Homo sapiens: one gene and its partners. The protein of the gene in region 4 purifies or fractionates together with the protein of the main gene of each other region. This does not show direct contact. Each region holds a gene or a part of one and is shown on either strand. Other genes may lie near its edges.

Region 1 (2,402 bases), on a different chromosome or scaffold from region 4:
ATTTTCACATGGGTTCTGGGTACTTCTAATTCTTTGAAACTTAGTACTGCAGGCTGGGTGCAGTGGCTCATGCCTATAGTCCAGCACTTTGGGAGGCTGAGGCAGGCAGATCACTTGAGGCCAGGAGTTTGAGACCAGCTTGGCCAACATGGCAAAACCCTGTCTACCAAAAACACAAAAATTAGCTGGGCACTGTGGTGTGCACCTGTAGTCCCAGCTACTCATGTGGCTGAGGCACTTGAATCGCTTGAACCCGTGAGGCAGGGTTGCAGTGAGCCAAGATCTTGCCACAGCACTCCACCCTGGGTGATGCAGTGAGACTTTCAAAAAAAAAAAAAAAATCTGAGCTCTACTGCATTGGTTATTAAAATATAATAAAAGTATTAAATTCTATTTTCGCACCAAATGAAAACACTTGATTATCATTATAGCACTTTAAACTTACTTTTCCCTTATATATTCTTGATTTAGAACAAATTACCGTACTTGAATTTCCGATCTTGCTTTCTTTAAATCTTTATTTAAAAGTCCATGCTAATAATGTGTTTACATTTTTACAGTTACATTATGATAGAAACTGTTGGATTTTTTAAATATCTAAAACAATGGCCCACTGAAGAAAGGAACAATTAACTCTTTAATTAATTCCTTAGGATAAATACCCAGAAATTTAACAGCTAGGGCAGACTTCTAATACAATACCGAAAGTCCTTCCAAAAACCAAGTGGTTGCCAACTTATGTCCCTTAGCATTATAACATTCTTGAGCCAATAGTGTAAAAATACGCTGACAATTTTATAGGCAAACATTACTCAAGGTATCTTACTTTCCACTTATTACTAAAGTAATTAACCCCTAAATAGATGCTCCTCAACAGTGGGACTACATCCTGGTAAACCTATCATAAGTTGAAACTATCAAGTTGAAATGCATTTAGTACCCGGATAAACCTATCATAAAGTTGAAAATTTGTAAATTGAACCAGTGTAAATCAGAGGCCATCTTACTTCATACTCATGAAGCAACTATAGTGGGATATTTTTCAACTTACGAGATAGCCTAGGCTTGTTGAAACACTGTCCTAATTTACTGGCTCTCTGGTAATTAAGTCATAAATGGTCAAACATCAAATTCTAGAAAAGCATATATTTAAATTCTCATCACTATAATTCAGAATGACTGGTTTACAAAAATATGTTCATAGTATTTGGGTAATAACTGTGGTGATTGTCTCAACTGGCAAGCTAAGTGGAATGCCTTAAAGAATCTATCCAAGATTAGTTGGCAGGCATTTCCAGTGTTGGTAAATCAAAGGCCCACGAAGGTATGCTGAGCCTTGATAGCACAACCTTGCTTAGGACTTTGCCTCAACTAACATACTTTTTAGTTTGGCAAGTTACCTGACCCTCCAGGTAACTCATTTTTCTCCATAGTCTGCTACTTACAAGATTGTCATATTTTTGTAATCTAGAAGCAATTATAGAGAATATTTTATTAGACTTTACAAATGACAACTGCATAAAACAGAAACCAGTTTCATGATCTAGTTTAGGGAGTATGTATTTTATACAACTCATAATCCTTTACAAATAGAAAAAAATCAGTAATACACTGAATCAACTTGAAGAATCTTCAGCATAAAGTTCAACAAAGTCCCTTAGATGCAATTTCTTTTGGATTTACAGCAACACTTTTTGTTATGTTGTATGTCTTGTAAATTCCAATAAGTCTATCCGAAATCTCAAACATATTATTTCGAAGAGAAATTATTATGAACTGTGCATTTTTTGTTTGTTCCTAAAGAGAAACAAAGAAAAGTCAAACATTAAGTAATAACAGGTAAATCACACAAACATGTAACCTCAAATATTTTTTGGACAATAAACATTACATTGATAACATGTAAAGGAATGATGGCAGGAATAATTCATAAAACAGTATTTGAGTGTGAAAGGAATTTGGTTATTTTGACTTCTAGTGGAAAAGATCTAGGAAGATGACCTAGGATTCTAGCTGTGATTCTGCTACTAATTTGCATTTTTAATTTATATTTTACTCCTCCAAAATGGAAATATTTGGTTCAAATAAAAAATAATTTGGTCTCCACTGATACCAGAGGAGATGGAGATGGAGTTATTAGACAATAAAGAAAAAGCTCAATTGTAAGAAATAAAGAATTCCATGTGTAATGTTTAGGATACCCCTAAAAGTTTCTGGAATGAAAATCCCAAAATGATTACTTACATATATATAAAATGCAACAATGGACACATTTTTAAAATCAAGGGCTGCATCAATCTCATCCATGAAGTAAAGGGGAGTGGGCTTGTAGTGGTGAAGAGCAAATACTAAAGCCAATGAACTAAGTGTTTTCTCTCCTCCCGAAAGGTTGAAGATCTTTT
Region 2 (3,252 bases), on a different chromosome or scaffold from region 4:
TGCACATGTCCAGCCAGTGCCAGGCACAAGGCTGCTGCCCTTTCGAGTTGTCCACGTGAAACAGCTCCGCACTGCCTGCAGCTTCACAGAAACTAGTGATTCCAGCCACGCCACCAGGAGTACCGGCTTGAGCACTGGTGATACCAGATAAATAATGAAACTCAGGTGTGCCCTCATTTCACCACCTCCTCCTGCCCCAGCCCCAAGCAATGAGGTCCCCAAAGAGCTAGAGCAGCAACCAGTTGAATGTGCATGCAAAAAATACTCCTGGCCATAAGCAGCCTCTCGCAATCCTCGCACTACATCAGCCCGAATTCCACGTCACCACGGTCTGAGAGCCTCCCCCTCCACCGTGGATGGGGGTGGAACTGAGAGCTATCTAGGTCTCCAGCTCCTCCCAGGGGCCAGCTCCCCAGCCCAGGGGGCTTCCAATGACACCAGGCTGCTTCCACAACTAGGGTCATATCTTCATGCAACAAAACAGTCCCGTGACACGGAGCCACAAGTTATATTTTATTTTAACACGAGATTAACATATAGTTACAAGGTCAATACAAGCCTCCAGTGGAAGCTCTTTATTTGGTTTAATTCCATCTCCAGAGACAAACAGGCAACTCTAGGACCTTTACAGTGGCGATCGGCCTCACACAGCAAAATGCCTCCAAAGTTTAGAATTAGTGCAACACACATACGAACATTTTAAAGGTGCTCAACATCAGGTTAAAATAGAATTCTGGACCTTTTTAAAAAGTTTTTGGATGATATAAGCACAGGAGGCAGAGCCAATAAGAAACATGAAACCAATATTTCTGGAAAAACACTTAGCATGAACGTCACTTTTTGACGTCGTGTAAACTTTCTTCTGCAATGACGGATGTTACCAAAAGGCATCGAGACCTTTGCGCTGCGCTGGTTAGACAAGCCGCAGGCTTATCTCCACGGTGAGCAGGATAAAAACCCCCAAGGAACAGCCCATGACAACCTTCTGTGCCTTTTTATACTTTCCCATCCTACAAAGGAAAAACTGGGTAAAGGACAAGTTCCTCCCTTTCACTGCGTTTCTAAGAACTTTTCAGGGCAGGTTCTTTTAAAATTAGTCATCTTACAACACAACAGTATTCTAGCACGGTGGCGAAGTGACAGGCGGCAGATACGGGGGAGGAAGGAGACGTTCACGGGAAATTCCACATTCTACTCTATGTGAACTGCTCCAGAAAAATACAGACATGATTTCACAGTAGGATTCCCAGAGTAAATGATGATACATAGGACAACTGACCTCCTCTAAGAAGCCCGGCTGGGGCAGCAGTGAGCTTTTCATGGAGCCACGCAGACTGGCCCGGAAGCAACACCCAGGTTCAACATTTAAGAGCACTCGCTATAACATTCTTTTTGGACGCAGGTGGTGGAAAAGTTTAAAAAACAGGCGGAGGAGTGACGGGGGGATACAAGCATATCCTATACTGGGGGTGACGGTCATTCAAAGAGCAAATTACTGCAGCTTATATCTTTTCCACTATGTTGCAAGAAATGAATCTATCCTGACCCATAATATGAAAGATGTGACGCACATGCATTCCCGAGGCTCTAAAATCCCATTTTAAAGAACCGTTTCACATCCTCGTGGAGTGGAGAGTGGTCCACTTGACTTGGTGAGGTCAGAAGTTCCTGAAGATCCCTGTCGTCCCCGTTGGCGGGGGAGCCCATTGTGGAGCTGTGGGGACTGCCACACTCACCATGCACCTGTTGGTTTGCAGGGACAGAGGTGCGGCCCTGACTCTTCTCACCCTGTGTCATCCGGGCTTGTCTTTCGTCTGTCAAGTCAGTCCTCCTGCGTGACTGATGGGTGCACCACGCTTAGGTCACCCGTTGCAGGGACCGGAAGTCCATGGCTCTGCCGCAACCCTGAGCGGTTTGCAGTCCCCCCCGGGGAAGAAGCAGTCAGAGAGGCTCACGCTCACCTACTTTAAAAACCCAAAGCCACTTCCTCTTCACCTGCCTGGGCCTCAGCGTCTCTGCGCTTGTGGTTTCTCGTCCCCGAGGGCTGACTGAGCTGCTCCGGAAGGGTGGTGTGTGGTCAACCTTGGTTGGCTGAGAGGAGCAATTTCCTGGTTTCCACAAGTAAAGACAGCCCCATCCCTTGGGACCTGTCCTTTCCGTCCCTGTCCCTTTGGCTTCTATAGGACTTCCTTGTCTTAGATTCATAAACAGCAAGAGGAACTGAGGATGCTTGAGGGGACCACCTAGTTACCAAAGCCAAGCAAAGAATAAAGCTGCCCGACGTCATCCCCAGGCTTCCGTGGCGCTCTCGGTCACAGGAGCTCTAGGCCAATGGTTCCTCTTGACTGTTTCTGCACCAAATGAGAGGAGGGGCTGCTCTGCTCTAAGGCGTGGCGGGGGGGGGGGGTGGTGGCCACAGATTAGGGGACCTCAGGTTTTCCTCAAAAACCCACACAGGGAAAGAAACTTGGCTCTAAAAGCAAACTCAACGAATTCCACATGCCCTGAAGAGCACGTGATAAAATACAAGGGTGGTGGCGGCGGGATCCCTCAAAGGACCACGAGAGGCACGGGGTCTTTGGTGATGAAAGTGCTAACCTCGGCGGGGTGCGGTAGCTCACACCTGTAATCTCAGCACTTTGGGAGGCTGAGGCGGGCGGATCACCTGAGGTCAGGAGTTTGAGACCAGCCTGACCAACACGGTGAAACCCTGTCTCTACTAAAAATACAAACATTAGCCGGGCGTGGTGGTGCACGCCTGTAATCACAGCTATTTGGGAGGCTGAGGCAGGAGAATCGCTGGAACCCAGGAGGTGGAGGTTGTAGTGAGCCGAGATCATGCCACTGCACTCCAGTCTGAACAATAGAGCGAGACTCCCGTCTCAAAAAAAAAAAAAAAACAACAACAAAAAAGGAAGTGCTACCCTTTTCAGATGCTAATCCTGGGGCTCCTGGAAAGGAGAGGATGTTCGCTTTGCAATGAGCTGGTGCAGAGGGGAGGGCCTCGCTCACAAGCGCATGATCTACAGTTCTCAGGGACAGGAAAGTGATGGGGAGGACAGGCGTGGGCTCCTCATGGCCGGTGGACACAGGCGAGTCAACAAGGCGAGCTGGAATTCGACTTCCAGTGTGGACCTCCCCAGGCCACTGAAAACAGGGCGTCAAACCAAAATGTGTGTATGCGCACGCGTGTGTACTGGTGGGTGTGCCTGTGGGTGTGTGTGTACCTGCCCCCCTGCCTGCCAGATGCTC
Region 3 (3,500 bases), on a different chromosome or scaffold from region 4:
GAGAAGGGTGGGTAGGTTAGATATTCTGGGGGTAATGGAAAACTTGCGGTTGAGGCAGAGCACTTTGTAATAAAAAATTTTAGATATGACTAGTGGTATTTTACAACAGGGAAGAGAAAATACACATCTCTGTAGTTTAAAGATAAGCAAGTTCTGCTCTGAGTCTCAAATAGTCAACATAAGCATACCATATATTTTGGTTACTAAGGATCCCCAATATAGGGCACCTAAAGGACAATTTGTATCATAAATCTCTCCTCAAATTAATAATAGCTAATTTTGCCTAAAAACTAATATTGCAGGGACATTAAATGTCTGCTTCGAATAGCCTATTTTTAAAAAGAGGATTTTAAAGAAAATGTAAATTGCTGATTTCTTTCTATTTTAATAATTTCCCCTGGTACAAATAAAGCTTTCAGAATCCCTCAGTTGATGTGAATATAGAAAGTACAGGGCACCAAAGAACTAAAGGACAGGTAAAAGACAGTGAGATATGAGACTTCAATCTTAATTTATGCAGCATGAATTGGATACATTGGTGGGAAATAATCAAGTAAAATGAAGGGATTACTTATATGTTAGCTTAGTTGGTTAGTATATTGTATCTGTGAATCATAATACTATTGCTTGGACTTTTTTCCTGATGGATTTAGTAATTATTATTGTATATACAAGTGGCTTTTATAGAATGCTTTTTGTTATGTAAGTTTCTTTACTTTTGGCTGTTTTCAAATCATAGATGGGTTGGACTTCTACCATTAGTTGTGAAGTTGCCGTATAATACTCTTTTATTTTAAAATACCAAAAGTACACCCTTCTCTGATTTAATAATAGTACTATATGTATTAAATGATGATTGCTTTTAGAATATATCTTCCATATTTTGAAGCAGGAAAATTTCTATTTTTAAAGTGGTCATTTCTGTTTCAGTAGGTGTATTCTATCCTTTTATAATTCTTCAGCATGATTAAAATTTTCCTCATCTTATTATTTTTTTAAGGGTCTGAAAAGCCCTCAAGAAAGCCTCAGTGATCTTGGTGCCATAGAGAGTCTCCGGGTCCCTGGAAAGGTATTGAGCTACACGTGTGAGCGTGACTTTTTACTTCCTTAAGAAAATATGATTGCCTCTGGATAGTAATTGATTCACAGAAGCTTTTCTTTCCCACAGGCAGATGGTTGTTAAGATAAGCTAGGTAAATTTTTATTGTATAGTAGGTGTAGGGCTTGTTTCATTACACGTTGGGATGCAGTATGTATGATGCATTATAGCAAAGCAAAAAATGCAAACTTGATAAATTTGGAATTTATTATATTAAATTCTTAGCCTGAAAGCAGTTGTATATATGTGTATGCACACACACACACACACACACACACACACACACTCTCTCTCTCTCTCTCTCTCATTGATTTATCTGCTGTAATTTGTAGAAATAAAGTGAAATAGTTGACTACTGACTTTTTATACTCCTAACATTCTGTGCCAAAAATCATGATTATATTTTTGTTGTGGAGCAGAGGTTTTTGAAAAAGCATCTAAACCATAGTATTTATACTGAATTGTATAACTTATCTCCTAGATTGTAGGTATTTTAGATTTTAATCCTCTGATATTCACGTGAATTTCTCAGTTTACAAATTTTATATAGGTTATTTGAAAGCTAGCTAGATTCCCCTTGGAATTATTAAGTATTGTTAAATCCCTGCTGTTTTTCTGGAGTGTTGCTGCTTGGAGCTGCCCATGTGAATAGCTGCTCCATCACAGATTAAGCTGGCACTTCTGAATGTCTGTTTTTGTATTTTTTAATTTGAGAGTGATACGTGAAAATACTGTTTGTTTTCTGCATCAGGCATTTGAATACACAGGGTGTGCTTCTCTTGATCAGCAGTTTAAGGCCTCTCCTTACACCTCGGTGTCAGCTCCTTAGGAGGATGATTTCTCATCTCTTTCAGGTGCCTTACCTGCTAAAGTGAATTTTGTATTTACTGCATTGTTTTTATTTTGGGTTAGGCTGAAACATATTCTCCAAATGCAATAAAATTATAACCAACCCTTTTGCATGAAATGGTTCAGACAAAAACTTAAGAAAAGCATTCCGTATAGTTTTATGTAATGTTATTAAAAATTAATGACTATGAAAAGGTTGGGAAACAAGAGATAGCCATAAATCCTAATTAATTGACAATAATTCTCTTTATTTCTTTGAGTTAAGAAAAAGATTATCATGCATTATGAACATACCTTGAATTAGATTGTATTACATATTGCAGAATCAATGTCAAATTGATGAGTGAGCCTCTTTAAAAAAATACATTACAGTCTTAACAAGAACTTTCTGTTGTGTTTCCACCATGAGCCATGATGTTTTCCCAGTACTGGTTGGTAGTGAATATGGTGATCTCATTACAAAGTCTTCTTATTAAATGTACACCCCTAGCTCCATCAGTGACCAGTGCTGTCTGTACTTTTAGGATAACTGGCCTTGGGTGGAGTGGCCAGTCTGGGATCACAAGGTCAGCAAATATAAATGGTTCAGGTGAAGAGTAAGCCTAAAGCACTGGTCTCTTTAGCACATACTAAGAAGCTAAGTTAGTTAAATAATAAAACAGTTAATAGTAAAAAATGTATTGATGCTATAAGCTTACATTTAACCTTACACTAAGAAATCCCTACAAGCTTCATCTGCCTGTTTGTTTTTTCTGTGTTCTCCTATAGCATAACAAATGATGGAGGGTGAGCAGAGCTTCTGCCTTCTTTCTGGGTGGTTCTGAGAACATGAGAGTTGCTGGGTCCAGAGAGTGGCAAAGCTCCAGTCAGTAAACTGAGTCTTTGGATGAGGTTTGAAGTCAGTACTGAGATCAGGAGTTAAGAAGACTCATATTCAGAAATTCCCTACACAGCATAGCTTGATGTAGCTTTAATGTTCAGTATTTTTTCACAATTTAGATAAGACTTTATACTTAGATCATAACACATATATTTTAATGATTTATTTTTGTATAATTGCTTTGAAATTAATGTTGTTGCTAGTTCTTGATGACCTGAAATTTGATGTAATTGAAGAAGATCTTTAAGATCTTTTAAAATTAAGATTAAAAGCATTTTAACAAAATGGAAAATGTTAATTCAAATGATTATTTTGAAATAACTTTTGCTTTAAATATAAAATTAATGTATGCTCTAAACAGAAAACATGGTAAACGGAAAAAGGTATCTTAAAAAAAAAATCACAAAAATCACCAACACTGTCAAGGTTAACATTGCCTACTGGTCTTTTCCCTATGCATATTCCACAAATTTATTGAGTTTCTATGTGCTAGAGATACTTTCTAGGGATTGGCAGTATAGCAGTGAAAAGACAAAAGTTCTCTCCAAAAGTCAAAACTTCCCTGCTGTCAGACAGCGAGCTTACATTCAAGCAGGGGTAAGGCGATTACAGATTATAATACTGTGAAGGAAACAGGGCGATGAGATAAACTCCTTGAAATTGGCAGTTATT
Region 4 (5,573 bases):
TGCTCCTCTTTCTGCCCATGGCAGGGGATACATTTTACACAAGCCTGAAGCTCTGGCCTCTCTGGAGGGCACTGTGGCCAGCCTGCCACTCATCTGGGGAAGCAGGTTTCCAGTCCCCACAGGTCCCAGGGAAGCTGGGACTATTGGGGGGGGCAGGGAGAAGCAGACTCCATGGCAAGAACTGTACTCCTTCCTTTAGGATCCCCGCTCTCCTCAGACAGCCAACCTCCTTCACCTATCACTAAGGTGTCAGACTGTGTGACAGGGGAGCCACCTGGGCAGGGGGCACAGCAACAGTAAGTCAGTCTCCTCTTAAGATTATAGTTTCCCTGAAAGATCACGCAGGGGGCCCTCTACCTAGTACCCTGCCTCATCTGGGTATTAGAACTGCCTGCCTTTGGTGTGAAGAGGGAGAATGAGAACTCAGCCTCCCTGTGGCTGACCTAGACCTCAGGGTCAGTGTACAGGCTGGGAACCTGGCGCTGCTTGTAGAGCCATGGCTGCTTGAAGAGCTTGGGCAAAGCTAGAGGGAAGCTACGCCAGGTGGCACTCTGTCCATGGAAGCCTAGTTCCACCCAGGCCAGGCCCCACCATGCTCCTACCCTGATCTTCACATCTTTTGGAGCTAGTTTCTTCACTTCACTCAGGAGCCTGTCACCAAAACCTGAATGGGCAAAGAGGAGAACTTCAAGTCAATTCTCAGGGTGCCTGGAGCCAGCAGGAGCTGAACACTTCCAGGGGAAGGGCTCCAAGAGAAGAGACAAACCTTTGAACAGGGTAGAGCCTCCTGAGAGGACAATGTTAGAGAAAAGCGTGCGCCGCAGGTCCATGTCTGACTTCTGAATGGCGAACACCAGGACCTCGTGGATGCCTTCACTCTCCTCTCCAATCAAATCTGGCCTGAAGAGCAACTCAGGGGCCCGGAATCGGGAAGGACCAATCTGCAGGTAGGAGGGCCAGCTGAAGAGGTCGGAGCTGGGACCAAGGTCCCTTTGGGAGTGGGAATGGAAGACGCCCCTCTGCACGTCACTTAGTAACTGGGTGGCTATGAAGGCCAGGCTCAAGACAGACTCTACATGTCAAGGGCTTAAAGGAACAAAGATAGGCCTCCTGGAAACTAGTGAGGGGAGGCTCCTATATTTCCTTCTCGCTCTGGCATTTTCCAGCCAAGAGGTCTTTGGCATCAGTACATGGATTTATTTGCTCATGGAAACGTCTTCCTAGCAATGGGGGTTCAAGGGAGTGGTAACTCACCCTACACTGCACCCAGGTGTGGTGAAGGATGGCACTAACCATCCCACTTCCTAATCTCATACTGATGTGGGACAATCCCTTAGGAGCTTCCTCCCCTCTAGCGGGAGGGAGCAAAGTTCTGGCTGCCTCCTCTGCAGGAGACAGGGCCACTCATGCTCAGGAGCTCTGCTGCTCCAGAGAGAGGGTGTAAGGCTGGGGTGTCCAGTCTTTTGGCTTCCCTGGGCCACATTGGAAGAAGAATTGTCTTGGGCCACACATAATATACACTAACACTAATGACAGCTGCTGAGCTAAAAAAAAAAATTGCAAAAGAATCTCATAATGTTTTAAGAAAGTTTACGACTTTGTGTTGGGCCTTACTGAAAGCCATCCTGGGCCACGTGCAGCCCATGGGCCAGGGGTTGGACAAGCTTGGTGTAAAGGGACTGGCCTGCCAGACTCCAGACCCTGATGGAGAATTCTGGTTGGGCCCAGAGCTTTTGTGGACCTAAGGGGACCGAAGAAAGAAGGCAGGCCACCTACCTCAATGGTGCTGCCATCAGGCAGGTAGTACTGAGCTTTCTCTGTCTCTAGCGTCTCATCCTTTTGGGGGTTTATGGATAGGTAACAGGCTCTCTGCAGATCCAAGCAAGACAGTCAGGCTGGCAGGAAATCTGGTGCACATCCAGTCAAAGGCCCAGGGGAGGAATGTGCTGCTGCACAAACCTGTCTAAACGTTGTGATGGCCCCAATGGTCACTATAGCTGCTGCCCAGAAGCAGGGGCAGTGAGGTCTCTGTTGGCCTTCACTGGGTGGCATTTAGCATATGAGTTCTTAACCGCTCCACCTTCCTGATGGGCAAGCTTGGAAACTTGGCCCCTGGATCCTAGGTCTGAGACCACAACCTAAGTTCAGCCCAGGCCCAGGCATCTTTCTCCTTCTACCACTCATATGGTTCTGGTCCTACCCAGCTCGAGTTTTCCCTATAGCCACAGGTGGCAGGAGGTTTCAGTTTACTTACAAAGACAAATGTTTTAAATGTATTATGACTTCTTCAAGGATGTTAAAAAAATAAAAATAAAAAAACCAGGAGTGGGCGCGGTAGCTCATGCTGCAATTCTAGCACTTTGGGAGGCTGAGGCGGGCAGATCACTTGTGGTCAGGAGTTTGAGACCAGCCTGATCAACATGGTGAAACCATGTCTCTGCTAAAAATACAAAAATTAGTGGGGTGTGGTGGCAGGCACCTATAATCCCAGCTACTTGGGAGGCTGAGGCAGGATTCAAGCGATTGCTTGAACCCGGGAGGCAGAGGTTACAGTGAGCCGAGATCACACCATTGCACTGCAGCCTGGGCGACAGAGCGAGACTCCATCTCAGAAACAAAACAAAATGAAACAAAACCAAACCCTATGTAATTTGCATATAAGGTATAAAAAACATACTGAGCCCCTATGTAGCCATCACCCAACTGAAGAAATGGAAGCAGCTCCCTTTCCCCCAACAAGATGGCAGCACGTCAGGAAGGCGAATCTGTCAGTGTGACGTAGGGGAGACCTGGCTGGGAAGAACAAGGCCTCACCAGGGACCCCCAGGCAGGTGCTTTGCCTGGCTTCACTGGCAGGTCACCAAGGTCCTGGGTGCTATGCTCCCAACCCCCACTCCATCCCTAGGCCCAGGGGGCAGCACTTACTTCTTTTATGGCCTTGACAATCTCAAACTCAGAGGATGAGTGGAAGTCGTAGCCCTCCTTACGCAGGTAGAGGCGCAGGAAGCGAGAGACGTCCCGGCCCGCGATGTCGATGCGCATGATGGAGTGGGGCATGGCAAAGCCCTCATAGATGGGCACAGCATGGGTGACTCCATCCCCAGAATCCAGCACCACCCCTGTGGTCCTGCCTGTAGCGTAACTGAAGCAAAGGGGCAAACCGTCACTCAGCACTGCCTCCTCACGCTGGGAAGAAATACACTTCTTTATTTAGGGTTCAATGTCAGCTAAACTAAAGCTTGGGCCTGCCTCTCTCCAGGGTCTGTAGAATGGACTGGGTACTAAGGAAGCCCAGGTGTTGGAGCAAGCCATGAAATACCTGAACGGAAGTTGCTGATCTTCTCCAAGTTCCCTCCCCGTACCCAGAAGAGCAGGCCTTCCTGTCTGAGATGGCCTGGCCTTCAGCTGCTTCAGAGACCCAGCCTAGGGGCCAGTTTTAACTCTCTAGACAAAAGGCAAAAACCCTCAAATGTCAACAGGGGCCAGGCAGGAAAAGTAAGAGTAAAGAAAAATAAGAATATTTTTCACTTCCATAAAAAACAAAGGCAGGAGAAGACCCTGCTTTACTGGTTTGAGAGCCCGGGGACCTTTGTCAGCCTCCCTCCAAAAAAAGGCAAGTGAGGCAACTGACCCCCTGCTTCAGTGCGGAGAGGCCAACAGAGCATGGACAGGCTGTGGGGAGGGTGGGCTTGCCAGCCCCATCTCAAGTGGCAGCCGCTCTTCAGCTCCAGCTGATTTTTGCCCTGTGGGAATGTGTGCCCGACCTTCCCAGATCTTCCCATTTTTTCAGAGAAGCCAAAAATTTGGGTTTTGATGGGACACCTCTTGATTTTTAAATGCTGGCTCACAGTTTGTTAATGGGGTCAAATAAATCCCACGTGTAGGTCACTTGTGGATAATCTCTGCCGTAGACCTCACTCTGGTGTGAGGTGGGGTAGGAGTGTGACAGGAGCCACGGGGGATGGGAACAAGGACTGTGGTGGCATTCGGATCATGGTTGTCTCACAGCCTGGCAGAGCAGCTGGCCACAGTAAGTGCTGAATAATAAGTGGACACATTACGGGGGCCTCCGGGAAGAGCTGCTGCAGCATGTGGCTGCCTCGGCAGGCCCAGCCAAGGCCTTGGGGACCAAACCCACTAGGAGTCCTGACACTGGGATATGGTCAATAGCAGCCACATGTCCTTCTTTGCTTTCAACTACGAAGCCTCAGTGCTCAGTTTCAGCAAAAGCCTCTCTCTCTTTCCCACCATCTTTAACCTTTCCCTAGCAGAGGGGGCTCAAGTTACTCTGAACCATTCCAGAGGAGAGCCAGCCTCAGCTGTGCCAAAGGACTGCTTTCCCCGCAGGGGCCGGGCTAGCCAGCTGCTACTCACAGGCTGAGTACAGCTTGCATGGAGATGAAAAGAGCGGGCACATTGAAGGTCTCGAAGAAAACTTCGGCAGCTCGTTCCCGGTTTTTTCGTGGGTTTAAAGGCGCCTCAGTCAGGAGCACAGGATGCTGGTGAAAGGAGCCCGGGAGACAATGAGGCCAAGGCCAGATTTCCATCTTCATTAGTCTTAGGGGAGAAGACCCTGCCTTGCTGGTTTGAGAGCCCGGGGACTTCAGTCAGCCTCACTCCAAAAAAAGGCAAGCTGTGCCTGTCAACTATCCCTGCCCAAGTAGTTTTCTCAACTTTTCAAGTTAATGCCCACTTTAAAATTTCATTCTGTCCTCAGCTGTGCCCCCCAACTCCCCTCCTTGTCCTCCAAGATTGTTATACAGGCCCCTGTGTCTACTGTGTATCTCCAACTGTCAAGAAGATTTTGTGAAACTCTAAATTCCTGCCGCAGACCAGTTCTAGTCTGTGACCTGTTAGGAACCAGGCTGCACAGCAGGAGGTGAATGGCAGGTAAGCGAGCATTATTGTCTGAGCTCCACCTCCCATCAGATCATCCAAGGCACTAGATTCTCATAGGAGTGTGAACCCTACTGTGAACTGCGCATGTGAGGGATCTAGGTTGGGCACTCCTTATGAGAATTGAATGCCTGATGATCAGAGGTGGAACAGCTTCATCCTGAAACTATCTGGCCACCCCAAACCCCCACCCCCATGGAAAAACTGTCTTCCAAGAAACTAGTCCCTGGTGCCAGAAAGGTTGGGGACCACTGCTTTAAAAAAACTGTCTGAAAACAGCCGGGCGTGGTGGCTCACACCTGTAATCCCAGCACCTTGGGAGGCTGAGGCGTGCGGATCATCTGAGGTCGGGAGTTCGAGACCAGCCTGACCAACATGGAGAAACCCCGTCTCTACTAAAAATACAAAATTAGCCGGGCTTGGTGGTGGTGCATGCCTGTAATCCCAGCTACTCAGGAAGGCTCAGGCAGGAGAATCGCTTGAACCTGGGAGGCAGAGGTTGCGGTGAGCCGAGATTGCGCCATTGCACTCTAGCCTAGGCCACAAGAGCGAAACTCCATCTCAAAAAAGCAAACAAAAAAAACCCAAAACTGAAAACATCCCACCTGCACCTGGAAATTGATACACCTAGTCTGCACCTCTCTGCATTTTCTTTCTTTCTTTTTTTTTTTTTGAGA

What was found. Proteins that work in one complex are often made in the same cells at the same time.
Region 1: the proteins of ACTR1A (region 4) and SMC4 fractionate together in Homo sapiens (co-fractionation; one large-scale study listed by BioGRID). This does not show direct contact.
Region 2: the proteins of ACTR1A (region 4) and FNBP1 fractionate together in Homo sapiens (co-fractionation; one large-scale study listed by BioGRID). This does not show direct contact.
Region 3: the proteins of ACTR1A (region 4) and VPS50 fractionate together in Homo sapiens (co-fractionation; one large-scale study listed by BioGRID). This does not show direct contact.

What each region holds. Positions count from the first base shown.
Region 1 is NC_000003.12:160,433,052-160,435,453, reverse strand, and holds the end of SMC4 (structural maintenance of chromosomes protein 4), read right to left. Parts: coding exon 2,245-2,402; intron 1,798-2,244; coding exon 1,645-1,797; 3' UTR 501-1,644; downstream 1-500. UniProt on the Homo sapiens protein: Central component of the condensin complex, a complex required for conversion of interphase chromatin into mitotic-like condense chromosomes.
Region 2 is NC_000009.12:129,886,687-129,889,938, forward strand, and holds the end of FNBP1 (formin-binding protein 1), read right to left. Parts: 3' UTR 501-3,252; downstream 1-500. UniProt on the Homo sapiens protein: May act as a link between RND2 signaling and regulation of the actin cytoskeleton. Required to coordinate membrane tubulation with reorganization of the actin cytoskeleton during the late stage of clathrin-mediated endocytosis.
Region 3 is NC_000007.14:93,238,866-93,242,365, forward strand, and holds part of VPS50 (syndetin), read left to right. Parts: intron 1-1,000; coding exon 1,001-1,069; exon of another isoform or gene 1,070-1,085; intron 1,086-3,500.
Region 4 is NC_000010.11:102,481,235-102,486,807, forward strand, and holds part of ACTR1A (alpha-centractin), read right to left. Parts: intron 4,500-5,573; coding exon 4,375-4,499; intron 3,143-4,374; coding exon 2,926-3,142; intron 1,870-2,925; coding exon 1,777-1,869; intron 942-1,776; coding exon 767-941; intron 665-766; coding exon 603-664; intron 1-602. UniProt on the Homo sapiens protein: Part of the ACTR1A/ACTB filament around which the dynactin complex is built. The dynactin multiprotein complex activates the molecular motor dynein for ultra-processive transport along microtubules.